2 separate regions of the Homo sapiens genome follow, and region 1 is linked to region 2. The links come from fine-mapping of genetic effects on plasma protein levels. A gene starts in region 2. The other region holds a variant in brackets. All regions are shown on one strand. Distances are from middle to middle.

What was found. PIP is the chance, under the fine-mapping model, that this variant and not a neighbour inherited with it causes the effect. Protein levels are from antibody-based Olink assays in UK Biobank. Linkage for the fine-mapping came from a reference panel and not from the study's own genotypes, which makes the PIPs less certain.
Region 1: its variant is fine-mapped to the plasma level of the MATN3 protein (UK Biobank, PIP above 0.99).

The regions. Positions count from the first base shown.
Region 1 is chr2:19,968,996-19,981,912 of GRCh38, forward strand. WDR35 (WD repeat domain 35) reads right to left here. Exons shown (of 27, transcript NM_020779.4): 4 at 11,696-11,788; 5 at 9,756-9,884; 6 at 6,535-6,668; 7 at 5,473-5,638; 8 at 4,568-4,713; 9 at 485-610. Among named protein-coding and RNA genes, the nearest start is that of WDR35, 15 kb to the right of the region's middle. The variant T/C (reference allele first, on the strand shown) is at 8,695.
Region 2 is chr2:20,005,560-20,022,435 of GRCh38, forward strand. MATN3 (matrilin 3) reads right to left here and starts at 7,109. Exons shown (of 8, transcript NM_002381.5): 1 at 6,850-7,109; 2 at 185-751. The coding sequence starts at 7,072. RefSeq lists an enhancer at 6,213-6,825.

The DNA.
Region 1 (12,917 bases), 39 kb before region 2:
AGTTGGAATATTTATTCCCCAAATCCCTCTCTGCCTGGCTGGTTGGCAGGGTCTGGGCTCCTGCAGAGCAGACCCTCTTGCACAGCCACAGCTCTTGTGGGTTCCAGGAGCCTGACTCCCTTGTCTTGCCCCTTCAGGCCCAGGGCTGGTGATGGCTTCTCATTGACGCTAATCTTTGGGTGGTACTTTTTATCATCCCTTACTGTTCCCTTTAGCCCTGCCCACATCTCTGTAATAAGCCCTTCATCAATCTCTCTTCAATTACTCCTTTGAGTGTACCATCTGTTTCTGGCTAAGACTCATGGAGTAATTTTACTAACTATATATAGTATTCTAGAAAAGTTTACTAGTTCTAAAATCTTCACACAAAAAGGCTTCCTTTCTGCTAGCTCCTAAAACAAGACAGCTTTGAATATACTTTGAGCTATAGCAAAATTATTTAGTAAGAAACACTGTTTATTTTACAACTGCTCTTAATATTTACCTTATAATTAGGTCGAATGTTTGCAAAATATATAAAGGAATCAACAGCTAGTGCAATTTTCAGTCCACCTCCTTCCCAAGATAGTGCAGATATTTCCTTTCCAGGAACTTTCAAAGTACCCAGATGCTGAAAAAGAAAGTTATCTTTAACCTAAAGTATAACAATTAACTGAAATACAAATTACCACCAATCACTTCACAGAGATCAAAAGTGGTATGAACATTATTTTGTGAAAAGTTACTAGTCACTTTAAAATCATGTTTCTTGAATTTTTTTTTTTTTTTTTGAGACGGAATTTCTCACTCTCACCCAGGCTGGAGTGCAGTGGCGTGATCTCGGCTCACTGCAAGCTCCGCCTCCCAGGTTCACGCCATTCTCCTGCCTCAGCCTCCTGAGTAGCTGGGACTACAGGCGCCCGCCACCACGCCAAGCTAATTTTTTGTATTTTTAGTAGAGACAGGGTTTCACTGTGTTAGCCAGGATGGTCTCGATCTCCTGACTTCATGATCTGCCTGCCTCGGCCTCCCAAACTGCTGGGATTACAGGCGTGAGCCACCGCACCCAGCCACGTTTCTTGAATTTTTATAATGAAAAACATGCATATAAGAAAAATTTACAAACTATATCCAAAGAATTCAATAGCAAATTTCATCAAATCTAAAATGCCATAGACTGAAACATGAATTTTTATGTACAACTAAGGAAAGGAAAAAACACATTGCTAATTAAAATATGGCAACTTTGATTATAAGATGCCTCCTCATTTTAAAGTTGTAAAAAATTATATTTCTTAGAATCAATGAAATATTTTATTAGCAAATTCAATCATAAAGTCTTGTCTTTCTCTTTCATCCCCTCACAACCAACGAGTCACCAAGTCCTACTGCTTTTACTCCTTTCCACTCTCTACAATTACCTTTTTAATGGACTGCATTGTGGTAATAGCTTCCTAACTTTATATCTTACTTTTCATCTGTTTCCTTATTCTCCCCCTCTGCCCTCCCAATTCAATCTATACTCTGCTGTCACAATTATCTTTCTGGAACACAGATCTAATCATAACCTACCCTGCTTTTTAAAAGGTTTAATAACTTTTAAAAATCAGTAAATCCCCACCATCACATTCTTTAGCATGGCATACAATGCCTTTTTCCCATCTTGTCCAAAATCATATTATGTGGCTTAATATCCCACTATTTAGCCATAACTGCTGTGTGCCTGCTCGTGAAGGAACTACTCTGCCTCCACAGCTTTGGCCTATACAATATCCCTTCTGCCTGAAATCCCCCTCTTCTTTCCTCACAGCTCCCCTATCCTTACTGGTCCTTGTCCTCCTGGAGCACGCCTATTCATCCATCAAGATACAGCTCAAATACTGCTTCCTCAACGAGTCCTGCCTTCTTCCCCCATTCTATGGTTCCAGAGAATTACAGAATGAGCTCCTTAAGAGTACTAACTGTATCATATTCACATTTCTTTCCCTTTCCATTAATAGATTATTTGATAAACTGATAGTCAATATATATCTTCAATAAATATACATTCAAATTTTTTTAATTTAAAATTTAAAATAAATAAACAGTACTTTTTATGACCAAATTAACGAGTGAATAAATGAATACAAACACTTTTTTAATGTGGCTATAAGGCAATCGAACATTTTTAATCTATATCTTTTATTTGACAGAATGATAGAATCCCCAAAATTTCAATGAACTTTACTGGTATCCCTTGTTCTAAGCAGATACCCTCTAGGGTCAAATTTAATGTTACTATAGTTTGAATGTCTGTCCCCTCCAAAACTCACATTGAAATGTAATTGCCATTTTGACAGTATTAAGAGATGAGACCTTTAAGCAGTGATCAGGGCATGAGGGCCCTCATGGCTGGGACTACTGCCATTATACAAAGGGGAATTAGGTCCCCTCTTGTCTCTCTGTTGCACTCTCTTTGCCCTTCTTCCTTCCACCATGAAATTATGCAGCAGAAAAGCCCTCACCAGATGTCAGTAGCTCAATACTGGACTTCTCATTCTCCAGAACTGTGAGCCAATAAGTTTCTGTTAATATATACTATGCAGTCTGTGGTATTCTGTCATAGCAGCACATAATAGAGTAAGACAAATGTATTGAGCTCCATTTTCCCAAGGAAACCAATGGAAGAAAAAAACTCAAAGTTTTAACCTAGGAGGGTCTGATCTATCTGTCTTGCTACCTGTATGAAATTAAAGGTGAACCAGCAAGCCCTCTACAGTACTCTTGGTATTGACCCATCCATAAGAGGAGGAGAATACGACCATCTTCTAACTGCAAACCAGCCAGGATGTGGCAGCAGCAAGGAAAGAAAACCACCTTTTAGTAAGCCCTCATTACATGCCAGGCACTGTGTAGGCATTTCCTCATTGTAATCTCCTTTAATCTTTACAACAGCACCATGACGTATTTCCTTTATTTCTGAAAATAACTAAACTGTGTCTCAGAGGCTAAATAACTTCTCTACGTCAAACTACACTGTGGAAAATGAATTCAATACCAGATCAACTTGACTACAAACCCTATGCTCTGTTATCTCCTACCATGGCTAAGACCACAGTGCAAAACCCAGGAGCCCCTGGCCCTCAGAATTTAAAAGCAAATTCTTCTCTGAGGTTTTCTTAAGTTTAAATCATTAAGTTTAAATTGTTAGATAACTTCCATCCAGGTTATCTTTCCTACCTTAACAATAACACAGATCCAAATAATTCCCCATATATTCACTCACTCAGAAAATACTGACTACTATGACCTGAGGAACTATGCTAGATACTTTTAGTTACAGCTAAACCAAACCCCACTTACAGTTTTCCGTTTAACACTTAACACATTGTTTTGCAAGACAAACAAACAGACTTTAGAACCCATGTTTTTCTACCTGGGGAAGGCTGAACTAACAAAAATAAGCAGATAAAACATTATGATAAATAAGTAAATGGCAACCAACAAAAATAACCAATAAAGAACAAGAATTAAGAAGGAGGCTATAAATATAGAAATAATTAGAATGCAGATTTTTAATTATTTAGGAACCTTGAAAACTATGCTTTTTTTTTTCCTTCACTTTTACATCTACGAGAAATATTGTCGTTTGACAATGTATAGAGAGCATCTACGTTCTACAGTATATTCTACTGGGTAACTTTGAGATACTGATTCAAAAGCATCAGAAGACATCATTTCTTGCCCTAAAAGAAATTATTAAAATATATAAAAATAACATTAAAACAACTGGTATAGGCTTTTATGCAGCCAAAAATATATATCACTGTAGTCTATGGCGAATTTATAAAAGCCAACAGGGTATTCAAAAGGGACAAAATATAGTACTGGGTTAGAAAATAAGACATTCAAAAAACGTATTAAGCTTAGTTATTAATAAGCTCTCACTTTCTAAATTCTTTAAAATTCACAATATATTAATTCTCCTACTTGACATTTTCCAATGCTACTTCTGAAAATTCTTTTAAAATTAAATTTATTAAAAATACTATTGAGAAGGATAATACTCATATGTACATTTATGAAAACAATGCTTTTATTTTAATGTAGCATCACCTAAGATTAATTATTAAATTTTCTTCAAATAACTGATTACTTTGCAACAAATTAAAAGTATTAGAAGTTTGAAGGAAGGACAGACAGATATGTATGTTTAACATCTAAACACATTTAAAATATCACATTAAAAATCAGAAAAATTAATCTGAAACAACTATATTATACTAAATACTACTCAAAAGCTGGCTATGAAAAGAGACACATATTCAGATCACAGAGAAAATATTCAAAATAACTACTCCATGGTGATTTCTTATGTTAAACTTCTGGTTTTCTGAATGTATAAAATTGTAATTTTTATTTTATAATTATAAAACTATAAGATTATAAAATTCCATGATAAAATACAACAAAGATTTATACTATGAAGATGAAATGTCCCTAAAAGAAAATGTGATAAGTTTACACCGTTTCCTTTGTTATTTTTTCCTCTACCTTACTCACTGCACATTTAAATAGAAAGAAAGAAGATCAATTTGAATGCATTTACCTCACCAAACGGAGTGTAAAACTGCACAATGTTCACATCTTTGTCCTGCATGGCTGCCTTCTGGAAGCCTGCCACAGCTAACACGCTGCCCATGTGGTTCCACTGGATGCCTACTACGTACATGCCAGTGTCAATCAAAACGGGATCTAGTCAGAAAGAGAAAAATGAGGTCACTGTGGGAAAATACGTAGCCTAGAGAACTTTATAATCTTAAGAACAACTTTTAAACATTTTTAAAACTTTCCACATTTTTAAAAAAACAGGGCTGGGTACAACGGCTCACGCCTATAATCCCAACACTTTAGGAGGCTGAGGCGGGCGGATCACTTGAGTCCAGGAGTTCAAGATCGGCCTGGGCAACATGGTGAAACCCTGTCTCTACGAAAAATACAAAAATTAGCTGGAGGAGTTGGTGCACACCTGTGGTCCCAGCTCCTCAGGAGGCTGAGACCTTGAGCCTGGGAGGCCAAGGCTGCAGTGAGCCAAGAACGCACCACTGCACTCCAGCCTCGGCAACAGAGCAAGACCCTGTCGCAAAAAAAAAAAAGTTAAAAATTAGAAATTGAGGCCGGGCACAGTGGCTCACGCCTGTAATCCCAGCACTTTGGGAGGCTGAGGCAGGTGGATCACGAGGTCAGGAGATAGAGACTATCCTGGCTAACAGGGTGAAACCCCGTCTCTACGAAAAATATAAAAAATTAGCCAGGCATAGTGGCACGCCCTGTAGTCCCAGCTACTCGGGAGGCTGAGGCAGGAAATTCGCTTGAACCCGGGAGGCAGAAGTTGCCGTGAGCCAAGATCGTGCCACTGCACTCCAGCCTGGGCGACAGAGTGAGACTCCATCTCAAAAAGAAAAAAAAAAAAATAGAAATTAAAAAAATTTTTTAAACAGAAAAATTCCTTACTTTGGTCATTCTCATGTCTCATTATTTGGCATCTTCCATTATCAAAGCAAACAGCAAGGCAAGGGCAATCAGGCTCCACGTAGCCTTCTGTGCCATGGTACCAATGAATTCCAGCAATGCTGATAGCTCCAGTGACATTCACCAAACAACTCAGTTTCATTTTTATCTAAATAAAATTGGTTAGGTTTAATATTTTACATTTTAAAACACAGCAGTATAGAGACAATACTCAATAGAGTATTGTAGAAAGAACACTGAAAAATACAGTCTAAAAATCAGGTGGCAAATTAAAGCTTAATCACTTACTGGTATACAGGCCATGGACAAATCACCTAAATGTCCATTTTCCCCACATGTAAAAAATGAGGATTAAAAAACACTGAGTTTTTATGAGACTCAAACAACAAGTATATAAAAGTACTTTGAAAACAGCAAAATGACATAAAAGTTCATTATTTTACTTCCACCAGTGAGTGGATTTACTTAATGTCCTAACCCTTGCTAAAAAACAAAACTGCCCCACCAGTAATCATACATCTATGATAGCTAAACCTTGCAAAGCCAGAATTTTTCTCCAGATTATGCTGCCTGATCCTATTCTATTTTACCTTCTTTCCAGGGATTGATTTTTCTCACTTACCATTTAAGTCTGTCATTCTTTTTACAAACAACCATTGGTAGCTTGCTACAAAAATACCCTGTGGTATCTACATGTAAACTTTGGCTTCAGACACCAGAAGACACCTATAAAACTTAAACTGCACATCGCCCTACTCATTATCTCTCTGCTTAAATGCACTGACACCTCGTCCTTTCTACCTACCAAAAAAAATTGGAACTAAAAGCTACACTCGAACTTGTTGCACTAATTTGCCTTGAGAAAACCAAAATTTTATTTAATTAAAACAAAATTTAGACGATTGGGAAAAAGAAAAAAAATCTGAATTGAAGACTTTAATTACACAAACCGCCATAAAAAATAAATGTATATACAAACATGAATGATATGTACGATAATCATATAAAATTGTATAAACAAGACTGATGCATACACTTACTTACCATAAAATTTCCTTGATTATCGTAAATGTGTATTTCCCCATTTGCCATTCCAAAAAGTAAGACTTTACTGTCCGCAGACCATGTTACATGGGATAGCTGTATACCCTTCAGGTCTTTTCCCCAAATACGATTGCCTAAAACAAAACATTATTAAAAGTTGTTCAAGGTCATGATCCTCCAACAACGGCTTTCGAAATCTTTGTTTTTCTAAAGATCTCACAAATTCTTCACAGCATTCATGCATTCATTCAATTTATTTGGCCAATAAATATTTACTGAGCACCTATATGTGCCTGAAAAGACATCTGAAATAGCAGCTGTTTCAACCTTTCTCCCCTTTCTTCTAAACTCTGATGCTGGATCTCACTCCCAATTAGCAGTTGAGCCCATCTTCTATTTTGGAAAGAAAATAAAAGCACCCAAAAAACAAATTCCTCATTCCCATCTTCAACAATTCAGAACATAACTGAGTCCATGCTTACACTTTCTGCGTTGCCCACTAATACAAAAGAAGAGGTATTTCCCCAGTCAGTCCCCTATCCAAGGCTAATTCCTCTATGTATTCTCTGATCTAATCCCTTCCTACCTTTGCAAAGATCTCCCTTTATCGACTACTCTCATTTTCTCTTTCTCATTAAACTCTTCACTCCAGGGCCTTTCTTATGTGGATTTAAACACATGCAGATCTATTTCTCTTTGAAACCATCACCCTAAATAAAATAAACACTTTTATTAACCCCAAGTTCCCCCTCTAACTACTATTTCTACCATTCCTTTCCCAACCAAACTTCATGAAAGAGTTCTTCACACCTATAGTCTCCACTTCAACTGCCACTCAACCCTTAACCCCTCCCAATCTGGCTTCTGCCCCACAACTCCATTGAAACTGCCTACAACATACACTATTTGGGTTATGGTTATATACTAATAGTCCAGACCTCACCAATATTCAATATATCCATATAACAAACCTGCACTTGTACCCTCTAAATCTATAAAAATAATAAATAAAAAAAGAAGAAACCAAACCTGTTGACATCTTGATCTTGGACTTCTAGAGTCTAGAACTCTGAGAAAATAAATTTCTGTTGTTTAAAAAAAAGAAAGAAACTGCCTTCATGGACGTCACTGATGGCCTGTTGCTAAAGCCAATTGATACTTTTTTTTTTTTTTTTTTACCACTCCCTCCTTCTTGAACTCTCTTGGCTGCCATTAGCCCATATACTCCTTTATCTCTAAGACTCTTATATTTCTCGACATCCTTCTTCTGCCTATCCCTTAAATGTTGCTGATTTTTTTTTTTTTCCTGAGACAGGGTCTCACTCTTTTGCCCAGGCTAGAGTGTAGTGGTAAGATGATGGCTCACTGCAGCCTCAACCTCTCAGGCTCAAGCAATCCTCCCACTTTGGCCTCCCAGGTGATTGGGACTACAGGAGTATGCCACCACGCCCAGATAATTTGTTTTGTTTTTTTTTTATTTTTAGCACAGACAAGGTCTTGCTATGTTGTCCAGGCTGGTCTCAAACTCCTGAGCTCAAGCAATCCTCCCGCCTTGGCTTCCCAAAGTGCTGGGACTGCAGGCATAAGCCACTGTCCCCAGCCTAAATGTTGCTGATTCTTAACTCTACAAATGCCTCTTAGTTTTGTTCAACTATTTCAATGGTTTAAATTACCATGCATATGCTGGTGGTTCCCAAAATTTTGTGTTCAGCACAGACATTTTTGAGCTGCAGATATGTATGTCTAACTATGGTCTGGATAGATTTACTTGAATGGCCTATGGCATGACAAAATCAACATATCCAACAGAGGAATTTTCCCTTAAAATCAATCTTTCTCCACACTATTTTAATGAAAGGCATTACCATCCATCCAGCTGCCCAAGCTAAAACTCTGGATACTGCCCTGGGGACTTCCATCCTCTCATCCCCAATCCTATCTATTCTGCCTCCTGAGTATGTATAAAATCTACTTACTTCCATTCCCTTGTCATTACCTGGATGGCTACCATCCACCATAATCTCTCACCTGAATTGCCAGAGCAGTTTCCTGATACAGCTGCCCATTATCTTTCCTTCCTTTCTCTATTCTTCATATGTAGCACAGAGATGTTTCTAAAGAACAATCTTATCACATTGCTCCCATTCTTAAAACTTTTCA[T/C]TGGCCTCCCAAGTGCTGTTGGACTTAAGTCCAAACACCTTAATATAACTTATGATCTGCATGATCTGGCCTCTGTTTCTCTCTCTAGATTCACTGCATACTACTCTTCACTGTTAGTATTATACCCTACTGATAATCAACTTTTTTCAATGGCCCAAACATAGCTAAGTGCAACTCCTCTGGACCTCCTCAAATACTACTTCTTAGGGCAGAGACATTCTACACACCAACCTACCTTGTGGCTAATGCCTCAGCATCAGCATCACTTCCTCCAGGAAGCCTTTCCTGATCCCTCCAAGTCTGCATTAGGTGGCACTTCTACATGCTCCTGTATTTTCCCCATCTTAGCGCTTATCACAGGATACTGTAATTTCTCAGTTACTCATCCATCTCTCCTGATCTAGGTCTGGTCATTGCTGTACCCTTAGTTCCTAAAATGATAGCTGTTGCTTTATAGGCTCTCAGAAACATTTGTTGACTACATGAAGTTACACACACACACACAGACACACACACACACACACACACACAGAGCGAGCGAGAGAGAGAAATAAAAATGATTTTAAAATAAATTATTTATCTACAGAGTTTCAAATTAAAACAAAGGTGCAGACTCTCAGAAGACCCAGTTTTATCTATTACTAGAATTTGAAAAATACAGGTTTTTAAGGCTATAAACTACAACCAACAATGACATATTCAGTTCCAATAAAAACGACCACAGACTTTTTGAAACTAAAGTCTATATATTTGTACAGACTAACCAATATAAAAAGAAATTACATAATGAGGCAGACATGTTTAAAATAATGCTGAAAAGTTAATTCAATTTTTTCAATGCCACTGTAGGAAATAAAAAAATTTCCTTGAATATACATAAAAACAGATGGTTAAAATCAAAGAACGGTTCTTGAATGTCGTCAAATTGTATATCAAATAGTTTCCCTTTTATGTCTATTTTTCAATCAGAATGCTAACATATGGTAACTAACTTAAATCTCTAAAGAAGAAAACTGTCAGCCAGATATTGATCTTAGTTCTATGTCCAATCAATACATTACCATCCACTGAACCAACTATCACAGCCCCATCTTCATATACAATGCAGATCTTCTGTCCGTCAGCATTCCAGCTCATACTGCGAACAACTGATTTATTTCGATTGTTGATCATCTCCTCAATCCAAGAGCCTGTTTTCACAAATTTAAAAAATTACAAGTCAAAACTTTCACATCTATTAAATAGTAGTTAAGAATTGAAAGCATTCCATAAAGTACGCCATGGGACAAATAACTGCAAAGTTTTCTACAACCTGAGACATTAAACTATAAAACTTCCAAATCCAACAAAAACAAAATGAAAAATTAACTTGGGCTTAACTGATAACTGCTTCAAAGATTATCACAGAAAACATAATAAATGCCCATCCTTTGTTTCTTCTTTCTTTCTTTCCCTCTCTCTTTCTTTCTGTCAATTAAAAATTAAACTTCATTTGCTTTTTCAGAGCTAAAACTACTGATTTTTCTGAAAGCCTAACTTTTCCCACTTGAACAATATGGTTCAGATCATAACCAATTAAAAAAACTCCAAGTAACAATAACTTTATACATATGCACATAAACTCTCCAATGAATAATTACAAGCATATTAAATGCAGCATATTAGTTACCATCACAAAGAGAATGAAGGCAAAAAAATACACAGCATATTAGGTAAAACCCTAAGCCTGCTTGAAAAAATTCTAATCAGTTTATACTACATTAGTGACACGACATCTCTAATGCCGAATGACAAAAATATTCTAGTTGTATGCAGGGTAGGAATGAGATGTAACTTGTCTTTTAGCATAACCAAACTAGAAGCAAAAAAATAGGCTATTTTGTTTTTGCTTTTCTCAAAGGCTTTTTGACATACCAACATGGGCAACTCTGGCCTGCAGCCAAGCAAATAATCATGTAATTTGGAATAACTGCCCAGAGCAGGATAACAGAATCGAGACTGAGACCCAGAGAAGACCTGAAGACCTACCTTGGAAACAGACAAAGTTTACTCCAGTCCACTGAACTTTCACATTCTATCCCCTACACACACACACACACACACACACACACACACACTTTTTAAAAAATTAAAGTATTATAGCATATCTTTAATGAAGACTTTTTAAATGGTATGCCCTGCCATTTAAAACAGCACACATGAACTTTTCAAAACAGCACACATGAACTAAGGCACCCTTCCCTTTTGAAGATGATAACTACAGGCCTCAGGAGAACATGTATTATGAGCTGCTTTTCTGGTAAAAGTGGATTATCTAAGTTAATCCTTCTTTTACTCACCCTCTCTCATAGACAAACTGTGAACCAGTAGTCAGAGTTGAGATAAAATCTGTATCCATAAAAGAAAAGGAAACTAACTGGCCCATGCAGGAAGTGAATTATTCCCTTTGACTTCTTACTAAATGTGTTTTTATCTACTGAGATAACTCTAGCCACTCATTTATTCATTCATTCAACAAATATTTATTGAACATGTACACTGTGCTATGTATTATAAAAGGTTCTACGTATAAAATGAACAAACAGTCATTTCCCCTTTCCCCTCAGAGCTTACAGTCTACTGAGGAACCAATATTAAATACACACTCACACACACATGAATGTAATTATAAACTGGAACTACCTAGAAGTAATTCTTATTGGAAATCTGGAAAAAAAAAAAGACTTATCTCAAGTAGAAGCTATTCTTCTGCTAAGAGTCTAAGTTCATTTTGGAGATGGCCAACAGTCACCTAATTCACTTTCTTAATAACAGGGTTAAAGTTTTAAAAAAGTGAAAAGTAGGCAGCAATAAATCCAGAAATATTATCACTGTGCAGTCAGGATGAACTCCTGTTGTTAGTAAAAGGGGTCTATTTTGGAGATGTTATTTACCCATCCAAATACTGTGATCCAGATGCCAACTTGTGAAAAATTAAATAATCTCTCCTAGTAAAGTATACCTTTATATAACATCCACACAATGATAAGCCCGTTTTCATCACTGGTAGTCAACTTCTGATACTGCTCATTCCATGTTACAACTTGAACAGAACCTAGAACATTATAAAACAATTTAGAAACTTAAAGGTTACAATTAATTTCAAATTCACATTTTTATATAAACACCAAGATCATGTTAAAATCAATATGGTTCCTGTACAGCTAACTAGTCTTTAATATTCCTCAAAACCTATTCATAAGATGCAGTTATTGATATCACTAATTTTCTACAACAATGCATAATACTATTTTTCATATCTATCCCTATTTCATCCCAGTAAAGACACCAATCATGGCTAGCTACCAGAACTACCATATACCTGATGACAGAAACAAATACAAGCATGGTTTACTCAATTGGCCTGACTCCCAAAAATAATGATGTTCAAAGGACACCATAACAAGTACTTGTTTAGGGGACTTTTATCATTTTTGGTAGATATGTCCTATAATCTCTCTTCTGCCCACCTCTCACTCGTTTTCCATTCTATTAGTAAAACACTCTTGAGCATATCTTAAACCTCTAGGGTACGTGAATAATTGATGACTTTTAATTTTTTAATCCCTAAATACTTTAGTGTACATTTCCTAAAAATAAAGACATTCTCTTCCATAATCATATTACAAATTAGGAAGTTTAACACTGATATACTATTATCTAACTCACAGTCCATATACAAATTTTACCAATTGTCCAAATAATGTCCTTTATAGACACTTGTTCTTCTCATTCCAAGATCCAATCTAGGATTATACAGTGCATTTAGTTGTTATACATCTTCAGTCTTTAGTCTTTTTTTTTCTTGAGACAGGATCTTGCACTGTCACCAAGGCTGGAATGCAGTGGCACAATCATGGCTCACTGCAGCCTCCAACTCATGAGCTCAAGCGATCCTCCCACCTCAGCCTCCTGAGTACTGGGGACTACGGGCACACAGCACCACGCCTGGTTAATTTTTTTTATTTTTTGTAGAAACAGGGTCTCATTATGTTGCCCAGGGTGGTTCCAAAATCCCAGCCTCATGCAGTCTTCCCACCTTGGCCTCCCAAAGTGCTTGAACTATAGGTGTTAGCCACTACACCCAGTCTCTTCAGTCTCCTTTAATCTGGAATCATAGGACAGATTCTAAAAAGGATTATATATACAACATCCATAGACAGGAGTATTTTCAATATATTAAA
Region 2 (16,876 bases):
ATAGAGTGTGTTTAGGTTGGTCGCACACACGCGCGCATGCACACGTGCACACACACACACGCATTGGATATATTTAAGTTTTTCATTAAATTTCCACCAAAAAAGAATAATACTCTTTTCTCTGGGTACACAATGTCTGAATATAACATCCTTTCTAGTTGGAAGCAAAGACTGACCAACTTACCACAGAAGGTTTCCTGGAATCTAGAGGAAAGTTTCTCAATGACCCCATAGGTCTCCACGTAGAAAACATGCTCCTCTAGGGGCTCACTGGCCATCATCTTGAGGGACGCCATGTCTGCCCGGTCCACGCCCACAGCATAGAGCTCAATACCAGATGCTTGGGCCCGAGCCGCCACCTCATTCACCTGGTCCTGGGGCCTCCCATCTGTAACAATGATGGCCACCTTAGGGATGTTAGAAGAGGGCTCTCGAGCCCCTGCCTCCACTGTGAAGGCTTCGTCCATTGCTGTCTGGATGGCTAGGCCTGACATGGTGCCTGTTGACAAGGGTGTGATTCGACCCACGGCCTGCTTCAGGGACTGCTTATCTGTGTAGGCCTGGAGTTGGAACTCGATCTTCACAGTGCTAGCATAGTTCACCACTGCCACCCGCGTGTCGGCTGGCCCAATGTCCAGAGTGTCGATTATCCGGGAGACAAAAGTTTTCACTTTGGTGAATTCCAGGGGCCGTACGCTACGAGAACTATCAATGATAAACACCAGGTCCAAGGGTCTGCTCTTGCAAACACCTGCAAAAGACCAAGCAATGATCAGACCACAATTAGAAATGCAGTAATCCTCACTTCCAGAGAACTCTGGGATTCCAGGAGGCCAGGCAAGGCAGCATCTCCTGACCCCAACATCACCACTGCCTGCGACCTTCCCCAAGACCATCGGGGTGTTGAAAGCACCAAGGACTTCAGAATTCCCTAGTGAGAATTCACCTGGAGGTGTGAAGTTTCCCCAAATACCTCACCTGCAGGCTGGCTGAATCCTGAAATTTCACTTAGAACCTCATCCCTCTGCTTAAGCTTTTGCTCCCAAGGGCCCTCATGATTCCTGGGAATTAATAGATTCTACACATTTCTTAAGTACCTTGGCTATCTGGAGCAATTGGACAATGTGTCCCTGAACCATGTAAAAGGCCTTGGGCCCTCAGGGACAGCCTCACTGCCAACCACTGTGCCCAAGCCTCAGGCAATGGTAGTCTGAGGCAAGGCACTCAGGGGCTCTTCTGGTGGCCCCCCTCTTTTACTCCACTTCCAAGGGGCTGAAAACTGCTCCAGAGTATCCCTGAATTCTCCCTCCATCTGGCCATCTTTCCTGTTTAGTGAATTTGGGGGCTCACTGGAGCCCTGAACTAATTTAAAGTAGAGCCAGGCGTGGTGGCTCATGCCTGTAATCCCAGCACTTTGGGAGGCCAAGGCGGGCAAATCAAGAGGTCAGGAGATCAAGACCATCACGGTGAAACCCCGTCTCTACTAAAAATACAAAAAATTAGCCGGGCGTGGTAGTGGGTGCCTGTATTCCCAGCTACTCGGGAGACTGAGGCAGGAGAATGGCGTGAACCTGGGAGACAGAGCTTGCAGTGAGCTGAGATTACGCCACTGCACTCCAGCCTGGGCAACAGAGCGAGACTCCGTCTCAAAAAACAAAACAAAAAAAAAAGTAAGTAGAAAGAGGGGCCCGGGCGCGGTGGCTCACGCCTGGTAATCCCAACACTGTGGGAGGCCGAGGCGGGAGGATCACCTGAGGTCAGGAGTTTGAGACCAGCCTGGCCAACTTGGTGAAACCCTGTCTCTACTAAAAATACAAAAATTAGCGGGTCGTAGTGGCATGTGCCTGTAATCCCAGCTACTCGGGAGGCTGAGGCAGGAGAATCGCTTAAACCCGGGAGGTGGAGGTTGCAGTGAGCTGAGATCCTGCCATTGCACTCCAGCCTGGGCAATAAGAGCAAGACATCATCTCAAAAAAAAAGTAGAATGAGGGATGCCAACTTAATCTTGTATCTGTTTAGTGAGCTTCCAGCTTCATGAGCATGTCTCGTAAGAAGCAGGGATTGTGATCTGGTATCTACCCTACTGCCCCAACTAACTCTCTTGGTCATCTCTCTTTTGACTTATTCATTCACCAAAAACATTTTTTGAGGGCCTACATGTATGAAGCCCTGGAGCTACAAAAGCATATAAACCAGATAGCCAGATTTCCCACCTTCAAAGAATTTATCTCTTTTCTACACAAAAGTACCTAACAGTTTAGTATCACAGTACATTTTAGTGTTCATCTATTCTTTCCTGTTCTTTCCTGTTTCCCCCAACCCCTGTTTGCACACCCTCTCTCCTCGATACAAAAATCAAATCCACAAGTCAGGATGAGACAAGAAAAAAAGCCAATTATTAAACTTCTTTTTCTTTTTTTTGAGACGGAGTCTCATTCTGTCACCCAGGCTGGAGTGCGGTGGTGCAATCTTGGCTCACTGCAACCACCACCTCCTGGGTTCAAGCAGTTCTCCTGCCTCAGCCTCCTGAGTAGCTGGGACTACAGGTGTGCGCCACCACACCCAGCTAATTTTTGTATTTTTCATAGAGACGGGGTTTCACTATGTTGGCCAGGCTGGGCTCAAACTCCCAACCTCAGGTGATCCTCCCACCTTGGCCTCCCAGAGTGCTGGGATTATAGGTGTGAGCCACTGTGCCCAGCCCTAAACTTCTTTTTCAAGTCATTCCCCCTTCTCACCCAACACACGCATGCAGCCCTAAATGGAAATGAGGTCCTGGGGCATGAAGTGTCACTCAAGGCTCTTTCCTTTCCTAATAAGGAGGCAGAAGTTGATGCTACTCTAGGAAGGTAATACTTAGTAGGAAAAAAAGGTGATTCAAAATTAATGCCTAGACTAAGCAGTTTATAGAAAAAAATTAAAGCCTTACCTGGAACAGCCTACCTTATGTCTCTGTCTAGTTTTCTTTTAAAAGCAGAAAATTATCTTCTTGTTTTTAGCCTGCTGCTTGGAGGTATTTAATTAACAAAAAGAAAATCTTCCTTTCAGTAACACTTTAGGAATCGCAAGGTACCAACACATCAACCTGTGAGGCTGGAGGTGCAGAGGTGGTTTTTATATTCATTTTACAGGTGAGAAACCTGAGGTTCAAGGAGGTGTGAGAACTAGAAAGTGGTAGAGCATGGATTGGACTCCAGGTTTCCTGACTCCCAGTCCCTGGGAGCTTGCTACTGAATCCCAGTTACCTCTCTCTGAGGCAACATTTTCCTCCACAAAAATCAACATTCTCTCATGTATTCAGTAAACATCCTGCTTGTTGACTTTAAGTCACCGCCCTGAAATATGCTGTATGTCATGCATTTAGTTAAGTCAAAAGGAATTAAACCCAGGCGCAGTGGCTCACGCCTGTAATCCCAACACTTCGAGAGGCTGAGGGAGAAGGATCACTTGAGCTCCGGAGTTCTAGACCAGCCTGGGCAACATAGGGAGACCTCATCTCTATAAAAAGTTTAAAAATTAGCCAGGCATGGTGGCAGGCACCTGTAGTCCCAGCTGCTTAGGGGGCTGAGGCAGGAGGATCGCTTAAAGCTAGAGAGTCAAGGCTGCAGTGAGCCACAATCACACCACTGCACTCCAGCCTGGATGATAGAATGAGACCCAGTCTCTAAAAGCCAAAAAAAAAAAAAAGGAATCAAAATTCTTTCTTTCTTTAAAAAAAAAAAAAACAACTCCAGCAGCCATAAAAAAGAATGAGTCCATGTCCTTTGCAGGGACATGGATGAAGCTGGAAGCCGTCATTCTCAGCAAACTGACACAGGAACAGAAAACCAGACACCACATGTTCTCACTCATAAGTGGGAGTTGAACAATGAGAACTCATGGACATAGGGAGGGGAACATCACACACCAGCGCCTGTCAGGGGGTGGGGGGCAAGAGGAGGGAGAGCATTAGGACAAATACCTAATCTATGTGGGGCTTAAAACCTAGATGATGGGTTGATGGGTGCAGCAAACCACCAGCGCACATGTATCCCTATGTAACAAACCTGCACATTCTGCACATGTATCCCAGAACTTAAAGTAAAATAATAATAATTTTTTAAAAAGATCTGAATAGGAAACATTTGTCATCTATTGTCTCTAAGGGTAGCCACTATAAGACTTCAAAAGAACATTGGTCTTTACAGTCTTTTATCTTAACCTGAACATTTCCTTTCTATGGATCCCAGGTCTTTAGGCAAATGCAACCAATTATCAACCAGAAAATATTTAAACTTACCTATAGCCTGGAAGCCCCTCACCACCACCGGCTTTGAGTTGTCCCACCTTTTAGGACCAAACCAATGTATTTCTTAAATGTATTTGATTGATGTCTCATACCTCCTTAAATTGTATAAAAACAAGCTGCACCCTGACCATCTTGAGCACATGTACTCAGGACCTCTTGAGGGCTGTGTCACAGACCATGGTCACTCATGTTTGTCTCAGAATAAATCTCTTCAAATACTAAAAAAAAAAAAAAAAAAAAAAACCTCCAGAATTTTACTTCATTCCTGGAAAGTCCCATAGATCTAGAGCTAGGAAGAAGAATTATGTTGAAAATCTTTCCTGGAGATGGGTCAAAGTATTTTTGTATAATTAGAAAAAGAAAAGGTGGGGGTAACATGAAGATATGAACTCTGTAATTGACAGTGCTTTCACCAGCACCCAAATGGTGTCCTTATAAATATCATGGCTATGTTCTTATAACTAAACGTGCATGATTCTTTCCTTCTCCACTTGGTTATTCACACCGAATCCTCTATTCGGGGTGTGGTATGCAGAATAATGTCCCCCGCCAAAGACGTCCACGTCCTAATTCCAGAGACATGTTACTTTTACGTGGCAAAGAGCAGAGACTTTGCAGGTGTGATTAAGTCAAAGAGCTCTACACAAGAGGTTATCCTGGATTATTCAGTGAGTCAATGTAATTATAAAGTAGAAGAGGGAGGCAGATGAAAGAAATGTGAGTAACTCAATGGGAGAAGGCCTCAACCTGCTTTAGCTGGCTCTGAAAATGGAAGAAAAAGGCCATAAGCCAAGGAACTCAGCAGCCTTCATGCGGTGGAAAGGGAAGGGAAATGCAGTCTCCCCTAGAGCCTCCCAAAAGGAACACAGCCCTGCCGACACCTTCATCTTAGCCCAGTGAGACCAGGGTCAGACTTCTGACCCACAGAACTCTCAGGTAATAAATGTGTGTTGTCTTAAGGCACTAAATTCACAGTAATTTGTTACAGTGGCCATAGAAAACTAATACCTGAGGCTTGACCATGGTGGCAGAAAATTCTGTGAACATCTGGTTCCTTCCTGACTGGTACTCCGCATCAATCATTAGTTGTTTTTGAATCTCACTCCCATTTACTAAATAGCAGCAATTTGATTCCCAAGAACAAAGAAAGAATCTGAATCTCCTAAAATGTTCCCATACTCATAATACCACTGAGTCCTTACAGTCCTGCTAGAAATAAAAATCCATAGCGAAGCTTAGCAATTTCTGGTTGCTAAAAGGAGATAATTTGGAACAGGGTGGAATCTCGCATTTATTAATGGGTTATCATTCATGATCAGGTTCGGACTCTAGGTAATGAAAGACCAGTAAAGCTTAGGGGGACATGGCCACCTGGTGCTGAATCTCTCCTTCCTCTTCCAGTCCCATCCCAGAGGGAGGCAGGTCAGGACTAGAGTAAGATTAACTTCCAGAAGAAAGGCTTTCCCTCAATTCCCGGCCTGGAGCAACCAGCCACCAGCTGAATCTAGCCCTGTGGACCCCGGTACCTCCTGCCTTAGCAGCAATGCTTTTGCCATTTCAAATCTGCCACTTCAAATACGGGGACTGAGTATTTGAGTCAGGAAAGAGTCCCTTGAGCTCCTTCTCAGCTTATCCAGAAAGATGCAGAAGGGGATAGACAATTGAAATCAGCCTGAGGCATGCAGCGTGGCTGGCCAAATGAGACTGCATACCCAGAAATGGCCTGGCACAGACTCTTTTTAGCAAGACTGAAGCTGCGCTTTTTGGAAATGAAGATACAATCTTATGTAAACCATATTAAGAGGTTGGTAGGCTGGGGCAGTGGAAAGAGACCTTGCTTGGGATTTCGGAGCCCTGAATTTTATTGTGGCCTCTGATACTGATTCACAGAGTCCCTTCAACTTGATATGCCTCAGTTTCCCTTCATGTGCTGTCAGGGGCTGTGTCAGACGACCTGCCCGCTTCGCTGCACTATGAGCTTTGCTCTGCTTCAGGAATCAATTGCTGACCAAAAAGAGAAATAGAATTGTTCGCCAAAGACCCAGAGTGTCTTGATCCTGGGGTATCCTACGGCTCCTCGGATCTCCTCCTGGTCTCACACCCGCATCCCTTACCTTCCAGTCTGAGGCAGCCTGAGGACTGTGGGAGGGGAGGAAAGATCACGCCCTGATATTGGATGGAGATGGAGAGATTCCAAGAGAACTAACAGCAGAGTCTCAGGAAGGGTTTGCTCACTGAATGGAGAGGTCAGGACTGGGACGGAGCTTAGCAGCAGCCGCTGGGCAGCAGCCCCTGCGCTCCCCAGCTGCCCTGTGCTCCTGGCCGAATCACAGGGGAGTGAGAGCTTCAGGAGACCCACATCTCTAGCCTGGACACATGAGTGATATTGGGCATCTCCCTCCCCTTCTCTGGACCTCAGTTTCCCCCACAGGATTCATCCGGGAGGGGCCTCTTTCCCCCGCACCACGGTCGGCCTGAGGCCGGGATGAAGCGCGCTTGGTGGATGCCCTGGGCTTCTCCTCGTTCGATGCTCACGCGTCCCTCCCGCCGCCCGCCTGTACCTGCACCGCGGGCGCGGCCAGGCTCGCTGGTCCCGGAAGCGGGCGCGCCGTCGGGAGCCGCAGGAGAGGGGCGGCGTCCAGGGCTGCCCCCGGGACCTCGGGTCTCCAGCCTCCGGAAGCCCGGGCGGGCCACGGGGTCGGGGGCGGCGGAGGGCAGCAGCAGCAGCGGCCAGAGCAGCAGGAGGAGTCCCGGGAGGCGGCGCGCGGGGGCCGGGCGCGGCATGGTGGGCTCCGTGGGCCTGGTGGTGTCCGTCGGGGGCCAGGAGCCCACGCGAGGCTCGGATTTAAAGGTCCCGCGGCCTCGGGCCCCGCCCCGCCCCGGGGCCTCGAGCGCCAGGCCGGCCCGGCGAACCCCGCCCAAGGCCAACAAGGAGCCTTGTCCGCGCATTCCAGCGGCAGAAACGGAATGTCTGGGCGAGGCGGCCAGCGGCGCGGTGGTCACCTCCCGCCCCTGCCCTAAGCCCCGAGCCGGCTGCAACTGGGTGGGCTCGGCTGCTGTCGCAACCTCCGTCCTCCCAGTAACACCGGGGCAGGGGGGGCAGCCATCCGCGGCTGCAGCCTGCCCGGCCCTCCACTCTCCCTCCCACCCCAGCGGGGCCTGCGCCCCAGGTACGGGATGGGGACCCCTGGGCTCTGCTTTCCCTTCTGCCACTGGTTTGCCCGACTGGGGCTGAAGATGAAACCCTGCTCCTAGCTCTACATTCCTTTCCTCAGCCAAGTAACCCAAGTTTTGCTGTGGGCTCTTGTTTAAAAAAAAAAAAAGAAAGAAAAGGCCTCACAGATTCTAGGGGCATGAATAGAAACGCTTTCATCCGAGCTTCAAATATCCACAAACATTTGAACTTATATTACCGGGAATAGAAAGTCAAACATACATTCCCCAGAGAGCCCCGTTAGCTGGAAGGACAGCCTGTACCAACACAGGCTTCAAAGGCTCTCCCGAGGCCCCATTTCCTCTCCGGAAGAGTTAGCATGGTACAGGGCTGGAGGCTGCCAGGGGACCCCCATGGAACTCACTGTCTGTGAGAAGGAGATTTGCATAAATGTGGTGTCTGTCTACGGGAATGTGGTGGATTTAGGAAAGAGATACTGACTGCCTGCGGAGACCAGGAAGACTTCTAAAACCAGGTGACATTTGAGCTGCGTCTTAAAACAATGGGCGCGAGTTCCAACAGAGCCTATCTGGTCGTCCTATTTCACTATTTTCCCTCTACAAGTGATCCTCCTCACACGATCCTAAACCTCACTTCTCATATTTGTACCCCATGCTGGTAGCAGCATTATACACAATAGCCAAGAGGCGGAAACAACCCAAGTGTCTCTCTTTGTGTGAATGGAAAAGCAAAATGCAGTATCTACGTACAATGGAATACTGTTCAGCCTTAAAAGGGAGGAAATTTTGGCAGATGCTACAAAATGGATGAACCTTGAGAGTATTATGTTAAGTGAAATAAGCTAGTCACAAAAAGACAAATACTGTATGATTCCATTTACATGGGGAATCTAGAGTAGTCAAATTCATAGAGACAGAAAGAATGGTGGTTAACAGGAGCTGAGGGGAAGTGGGGATGGGGAGTTGTATAATGTATCAATGACATTGGGCAGTGATAGTCACACTGAGGGAAAAGGTCACTCAACTCCCACTGAGAACTCACCAATTTAGAAGGACCTTAGAAGAAACGAGAAGTTTGTAATAATGGGAAGAGGACACTAAGAAGTTTGAAAGAAACTATGCCAAGAAGAGGAGGGATTGATAAATACAGTATTTGCAAGCTCTGGTGGACATTTGTCTTTCGTCTTGCTTTTAGAATGATCCCCAAAGCCTTTGAACCCTACATTAGTCAGGGTTCTTGAGAGAAACAAAACCAATAAATTTTATATACACATACATATAGAGAGAGGGTGGGGGGAGTAATTGAGATTATGAGGGATTGGTTCATGCGATTATGAAGGCTGAGAAGTCCCACAGTCTGCTGTCTGCAAGCTGGGGGCCCAGGAAAGCCAGTGGTGTAATCCAGTCCAAGCCTGAAGGCCCAAGAGCAGGAGAGCCAATGACATAAGGCCCAATCTGAGTCCAGAGACCCAAGAACCAGGAATGCTGATGTCCAAGGACAGGAGAAGCTGGTTGGCCCAGCTCCAGCAGAGAACACATTTGCCTTCCACTGTCTTTTTGCTCCATTCAAGCCCTCAACAGATTGGATGATGCCCACTCCACTCACATAGATGAAGGTGATCTTCTTTGCTCAGTCTACCGATTCAAATGCTAATCTCTTCCAGAAACATCCTCACAGACACACCCAGAAATAATATTTAATAGCTATCTGGGCATCCATTAGCCCAGTCAAGATGACACATTAAAATTCACCATCACAAATACCTTCCTAAATTTAGGGATTTCCAACTTCATGAGTCAGCACCTCCCCAAGTTGACTCCAAGAACTTGCTTCCCCAGCATCTCTTGCAGCTAGGATGTACATAAGTGGCCCAGTCTTCATCGATCATATGTGGTGTCTATGCCAAGCAGCAGTGACTCTAGGTCTCCCATATAGCAAACCTGCAGTATAATTTTGGGAATGGTTGATGACTGTGTGGCTTCCAAGCTTGATTCTTGAACCTTTCCAGAAATTATTTGAACCACTTAATATCCAGGGCTACATATGGATGGTGTAGGTGTACATTGCACAAGTTCACAGGGGCACTATTCACATTCGTAGTCAACACATATTGATTATAACATTTGGAATTCCACTTCAACTGGGGAGTGATGTTTCTTGAGGAATGGTTGGCTTTTCCATTTGTACTTTGAGCTAGTAGTGGGACAAATAATACCCTTAATATATACTTTTTCTGTTTCTTTATTATTATTATTATAAACAGGGTCTCATTCTGTCACCCAGGCTGGAGTGCAATGGTGTCATCAGAGCTCACTGCAACCTCAACTTTCTGGGCTCAAGCAATCCTCCAGGTTCAAGCAATCCTCCTGCCTCAGCCTCCCGAGTTGCTGGGACCACAGGTGTGCACCACCACGCCCAACTAATTTTTTTTTATTCTTTATAGAGACAGGGTCTAATTATGTTGCCCAGGCTGATCTTGAACTCCTGGGCTCAAGTGATCCTCCCACCTCAGCTTGCCAAAGTGCTAGGATTATACATGTGAGCCACCATGCTTAGCCTCTTTTTCAGCTCATTCTAGCAGGAATGGGTTCTGTTTGCACCAACAATGTGGATATATTAATCTTGTGATTTTTTTTTTCTATTGCATACCACTGGGGGGCACTGTTTTAAAGAGCTCAAAATAAAAATCTCAGCTCCCTGGTGAATGTCCCTACACATTCGTTGTCAGTATCTCAGACAATTTCAGATGCTGGTGTATGAAAGTCATGCCATCTTGAATGAAATAGAAATTGTCTGATAAGTTTGTATCTCCAGAGTTCACACTCCAGGGCGGTTGTCTTACATCTGATGTCCAAAGATTGTCAAATAAAACAAAGGTAGCTCTTCTGACAGAGGAATTCAGGTGGCTGTAGGGCCTTCTTGCATGTCACCAACTCAACTGGCTGCTGGACCAGGTGGTAACTTTGCTTTCAGGTGTTTACTTGGGAATATTGCAAAAGCTATATTTCTCTACCACTGCATATTATCTTATACTACTTTGTCAAGATAAAGACTAGAATAACTTTTTGATAACCTAAAGACTTAGGTCATAAAAAAGCCAAACAGAGGTTTTTTGAACTATTCAAAAATCTAAGAAATACAACAAAGATTTATATATACACTTTACATTGTTTTTAGAATTTTATTATTTTTAAAGTAGGTAATACATGCACTTGGTCTAAACTTTGAAAAGAAAAAAGAAACCGACCAAATGTTAGGATTACTTTCAACTTTGCATTACTTCTTACAAGCAATAAATTCAACATCTTGGGAGAATTATTTTTCTCACAACTAGGATTTCAGCAGTAGAATAAGACTTGCAAGCTACTTAAGGAACCACTTGTCTCCTGCTTTGCTGCCCTTAATGTGTGGATTTTGTTCCCAAGGCTGCTGGAACTCCAAGTATCATGTTGGCATTCCAGGATGAAGGAAGAGGGAAGACCAAAGGCCAAAGAGCAAAGGACCAAAAGATATTTGCTGCTGACATCTCATGGCCACACCTGGCCACAAGGGGGTCTTGAAAGGTAAGTTCTTAGCTTTTTTGATCCACAGTGAAGAAGGCAAAGGAAAACATGCATTGGAATGGGAGTTGACAGCTAACCTGTGGCATATACTACAGGTATATGGTGAAAAGGAACTATCCCAACCACCCTTGCCAATAACACCACTGTTGCCAATGTCTTGAATGTGCATAGACTTGTAGGTGTAAACATTGAAAAATACGTGTGCAGACATCCACTGTTCTATTGAAAGAAGACATATGTTTCCAACTTTAGACCAAAAAATCTACCCCCAAACAAGTTGAAAAGTCCTTTGATTCCATGGATGCATTGGAGAAAATGTTGTCAAAAGATGTCCCAAGACTTCTTAAATCTGATAAATGACAGACCATGTACTTGGAGAAAAAAATTTGTTTTCTTTTGTGTTCAAAACTGTCTCAATCCCAAGGTGGAAGTCTTTTCCAGAAAGTATAGAACTCTTTACCTATGTTTTTTGCAATTTACCCACCTGAAAAAAACAAGTAATTATGAAAAATGAATATGTTCAATAGCCTACAAGTTGTATTGCCATCTCTGTTTTTTAATTGCCACAGGGATTAAGATAGTACAAATTACGGATTGGTACTACCCATTAATATTTATTTTATTAAATAAATATTTCTAGACTGGATGTGGTAGCTCATGCCTGTAATCCCAGCACTTTGGGAGGTGGGAGGAGCGCTTGAGCCCAGGAGTTCAAGACCAGCCTGGGCAACATAGTGAGACTCCATCTTTATGAAAAATTTTTTAAAAATTAGCCAGGTGTGGTGGCACACACCTATGGTCCCAACTACTCGGGAGACTGAGGTAGGAGGACTGCTTCAGCTCAGGCCATTGAGGCTACAGTAAGCCATGATCGTAGCACTGCACTCCAGCCTGGGCGACAGAGTGAGACCCTGTCTCAATCAATCAATCAGTCAATATTTCTGTGAATAAGCAGAAAACATGGAAACTAAATCTAAACTCTTGTGTTTTAAGGCCTGTGCCTATTTTTAATACCAAATTCTTAGCTATATGAGAGTAGCTTGCAAATGAGATGAGGTTGAAGGCAAAGTTTGGCTTGCTCTAAAAAAGAAAAAAAAACACTATTTCTGAAACACAGGAAGCACATTTCATTATTGCCAGTAAGTTCTGAAGAGGGCTGTTAATGACCTACTATTATTAACTAACATTTACAACTTAAGACATATTTCTATTCAAAATAGTAGAATCAATATTTGAAAAGAGCAACTCATAACACTTTTGCTTCCTTTAATAAAAGATTGGTTTTAATTTTTATTGTTTCATTTTAGAAGTACAAGCATGAGCATTAAGTTTCACTAGTAAATAAAAAAACAATTATCAAGTCAGCCAGTTCACTGTAATGTCTTCCCCAGAGTTGATTCTCTGAAGCCATATTGTAAATTAGGTTTTTCAAATTTGTTTTTACCACAATTCACTATAACAACACATTTTATATTATGAGCCAGTTACTGCACAAATATATAATACATATATACAACAGAAATAAGTTTTTTTTTTTTTTTGAGACGGAGTCTTGCTCTGTTGCCCAGGCTGGAGTACAGTGGTGCGATCTCTGCTCACTGCAAGCTCCGCCTCCCGGGTTCACACCATTCTCCTGCCTAAGCCTCCTGAGTAGTTGGGACTACAGGTGCCTGCCACTATGCCTGGCTAATTTTTTTTTTTTTTTTTTGTATTTTTAGTAGAGATGGAGTTTCACCGTGTTAGCCAGGATGGTCTCGATCTCCTGACCTCGTGATCCGCCCGCCTCGGCCTTCCGAAGTGCTGGGATTACAGGCGTGAGCCACCGTGCCTGGCCCAGAAATGAGTTTTATAAAGCAATATTGACAACACATGTGATGCACTCCAATGATTCCTATTTTATTCAACTCCATTCATTTCTATTTCATTTTCTTAAAAATCTGGCTATAAACATCTAAATAGAATTCATGATTCACTAATGTTTGAAAACGTCTGTATTAAATAGATTTTCTTCTGCTGCCTCTGCCCTTTCAATCTATTACAAGTGTCTGGTTTGTTGCTTCAGTGGGCCTTACTCACTTTGTAATTATTTAATATGTATTAAATGCATTCATTCCATCAGACTCCACTAGAGCATAGGCTCCAAGAGGGCAGAGGCAATGCTTGCATTGTTTGCTACTAAATTCCCAGAAATTCTACCTTACCACATGCAGGTTCACAACCTCTGTTAGGACTGAGACTTCAGGAAATGGGAGATCATGGAACAGAGCTGATATTCAGCCTTTCCTTGGCAGAGTAGTCAACAGGCATGATAGATTGTTTGTAGGAAGAGAAACAGCCTGGCACTGCTTTTTCCAGGAATTGAGTGGTGGCGAGTGCTCTGTTTCACTTCACTGACAACAGACTGCCCTGTGCTGGGCATTGGCTCCACAGACCATCTCTTCCTTGGCCTTCTCTAGCAGTGGAGTGAGATCCTCCTCCAACACCAGGCTCCTTCTAGGGAAGAAGTTTGGGGGAGACGCAGCCTAAAGTGTAATGTCTGTTTCAGCACATTAGCATGTGAGCATCTGTGGAAATTAAAACTATTTAACCAAGGCTAGAAAGTAAATTAAGAGTTGCTTTTCTTTAAAAAAATCACTTTAATATTGCTATAATTTTTTTACAATTCTAAAAAACTATTTATTAGTCAACTTTGGCTAGGTTATGCTATGGTAACCAATGGCCCCACACTCATGTTCTTATAACAAAGGACGTTTATTTCTTGCTGTGTTATGTGTCCTTCATAGGTTGGCTGCAGCTCTCCTCCATGTCTTCTTCATTCTGGCACCCAGACATAGGAGCAGGCCCAATCTGGAATGTGCTGGTCTTGAGGCAAAGGAAGGAAAAAAGATGGTAGAATCATGCACCTGCAAGAAGGTGGCAAATCAATTTCATTCACGTTATTGGCTGGAGCAAGCCACGTGGCCAAGCCTGATGGCAGCAGTTGGGAAATATTAATATCAACTTTTTGCTGGAAAAATGGCAAATATTTGGAAACTACAACAGGATCTAGCACAATTTATTTAGACATTGCTTATGATGGGGATAGATGGGGGCCCTCAGAGGGCCCTTCTCTTAGAAGATTCAACAAGAACCCTTCATCTCTCATTCCAGGTTGGCTTCTCCTCAAGAGGCCACTCACGTTGGCTGATCTAATCCTAACCACTTTCTAACAGCTTTTCATCTTCATAAGTAGATAGCCTTGGTGGAGCAATTTCTTTGTTCTTGTTGCTTGGTGTCCTGCGAGTAGGGAAACTGCTAGCTCTCAGCTCAGGCCAAATGGGAAGCATGGTTGGAATCCGCTTCCAACAAGTTGTCACTCCCAAGAGTCATGCCCTTTCTTGACTTCGGGTTGTGCAGAGCCTGGCTCTAAAATCTCCCAGGACACATGCAAGGCCATGGATCCCAAGATATATTTTTTCCACATCCTAGACTTACTGATTTATGACAAAACATGCAGTTGTGCTATTTACAGAAACCTCCAATGGAAGCCTTTTCATATCTCTCAGAGGTTCAGTCTTTTCCAGCTCTGGGTGCAAATCAAACAAAGGGGAAGGAGGCCTGTAGTCCCCATGCCCTGATGCAGTGGGCCTGCAACTGGACTGTCAGAATCACCCGGGAGGCCTTATCAAAGACAGATTCCTGGGCCCCCACCCTATATGGGCTGAATCAGATGGTTGGGTTCTGGGCCCAGGAATTTCCAGTTTCTGGAGGTGTATTAGTCTGTTCTCATGCTGCTAATAAAGACATACCTGAGACTGGGTAATTTATAAAGAAAAGAGGTTCAATGGACTCACAGTTCTACATGACTGGGGAGCCCTCACAATCATGGCAGAAGGCAAAGGAGAAGCACAGGCACATCTTACATGGTGGCAGGCAAGAAAGCTTGTGCAGGGGAACTCCCGTTTATAAAACCATCAGCTCTCATGAGACTTATTCACCACCACAAGAACAGTGTGGGGGAAACCACCCCCATGACTCAATTATCTCTGCCTGGCACCAACCTTGACACATGGGGATTATTACAATTCAAGGTAAGATTTGGGTGGGGACACAGCCAAATCATATCATTCTGCCTCAGCCCCTCCCAAATCTCATGTACTCACATTTCAAAACCAATCATGCCTTCCCAACAGTCCCCTAAAGCTTTAACTCATTTCAGCATTAACTCAAAAGTCCACAGTTCCAAAGTCTCATCTGAGAGAAGGGAAGTCCCTTCAGCCTATGAGACTGCAAGATCAAAAGCAACTTAGTTACTTCCAAGGTACAAGGGTGATACAGGCAATGAGTAAATACACCTGTGCCAAATGGGAGAAATTGACAAAAACGAAAGGGCTAGAGGCCCCGTGCAAGTCCAAAATCCTGGGGAGGGGTAGTCATATCTTAAAGCTCGAAAATGATCTCCTTTGACTCTGTGTCTCACATTCCAGGTCAAACTCATGCAAGAAGTAGATTCCCATGGCCTTGAGCAGCTCTGCTGCTGTGGCTTTGCAGGGTACAGCCCCCCTCTTGGTTGCTCTCACAGGCTGGCACTGAGTGTCTGCAGTTTTTCCAGGTGCATAGTGCAAGCTGTCAGTGGATCTACCATTCTGGGGTCTGAAGGATGGTGCCACTCTTCTCACAGCTCCAGTAGGCAGTGCCCATTGGGACTCTGTGTGGGGGCTCCTACCCCACATTTCCCTTCTGCACTGCCCTAATAGGAATTTTCCATGAGGGCTCTGCCCCTGCAGCAAACTTTTGTCTGGACATCCAGGCCTTTCCATATATTTTCTGAAATCTAGGAGGAGGTTCCCAAGCCTCAATTCTTGATTTCTGTGCACCTGCAGGCTCAACACCACGTGGAAGCCAACAAGGCTTCGGGCTTGCACCCTCTGAAGCAATGGCCTGAGCTCTTTGTTGGCCCCTTTTAGCCACAGGTGGGATGCAGAGCACCAAGTACCCAGACTGCACAAAGCAGCAAGTCCCTGGGCTGGGCCCACAAAAACATTTTTTCCTCCTAGGCTTCTGGGCCTGTGGTGGGAGGGGCTGCCATGAAGACCTCTGACATGCCCTGGATATATTTTCCCCATTGTCTTGGCGGTTAGCATTTGGCTCCTCATCACTTATGCAAATTTATTCAGCAGCTTGAATTTCTGCTCAGGAAATGGGTTTTTCTTTTGTATTGCATCATCAGGCTGCAAATTTTCTGAACTTTTATGCTCTGCTTCCCTTTTAAATATAAGTTCCTATTCCAAACCATATCTTTGTGCATACATAAAACAAAATACTCTTAGCAGCACCCAGGTCACCTCTTGAACACTTTGCCACTTAGAAATTTCTTCCATCAGATGCCCTAAATCATCTCTCTCAAGTTAAAAATTCCAAAAATCTCTAGGACAGGGGCAAAATGCCACCAGTCTCCTTGCTAAAACATAGCAAGAGTCACTTTTGCTACAGTTCCCAATAAGTTCCTCATCTCCATCTGAGACCACCTCAGCCTGGACTTTATTGTCCATATCACTATCAGCATTTTTTTCAAAGCCATTCAACAAGTCTCTAGGAAGTTCCAAACTTTCCCACATTTTTTTGTCTTCTTCTGAGCCCTCCAAACTGTTCCAACCTCTGCCTGTTACCGAGTTCCAAAGTCACTTCCACATTTTTGAGTATCTATACAGCAGCAATTTACCAATATCAATACCAGTACCAATTTATTCTACCAGTACCAAGTTACTGTATTAGTCTGTTCTCTTGCTGCTAATAAAGGCATACCCGAGACTGGGTAACTTATAAAGGAAAGAGGTTTAATGGACTCACAGTTCCACATAGCTGGGGAGC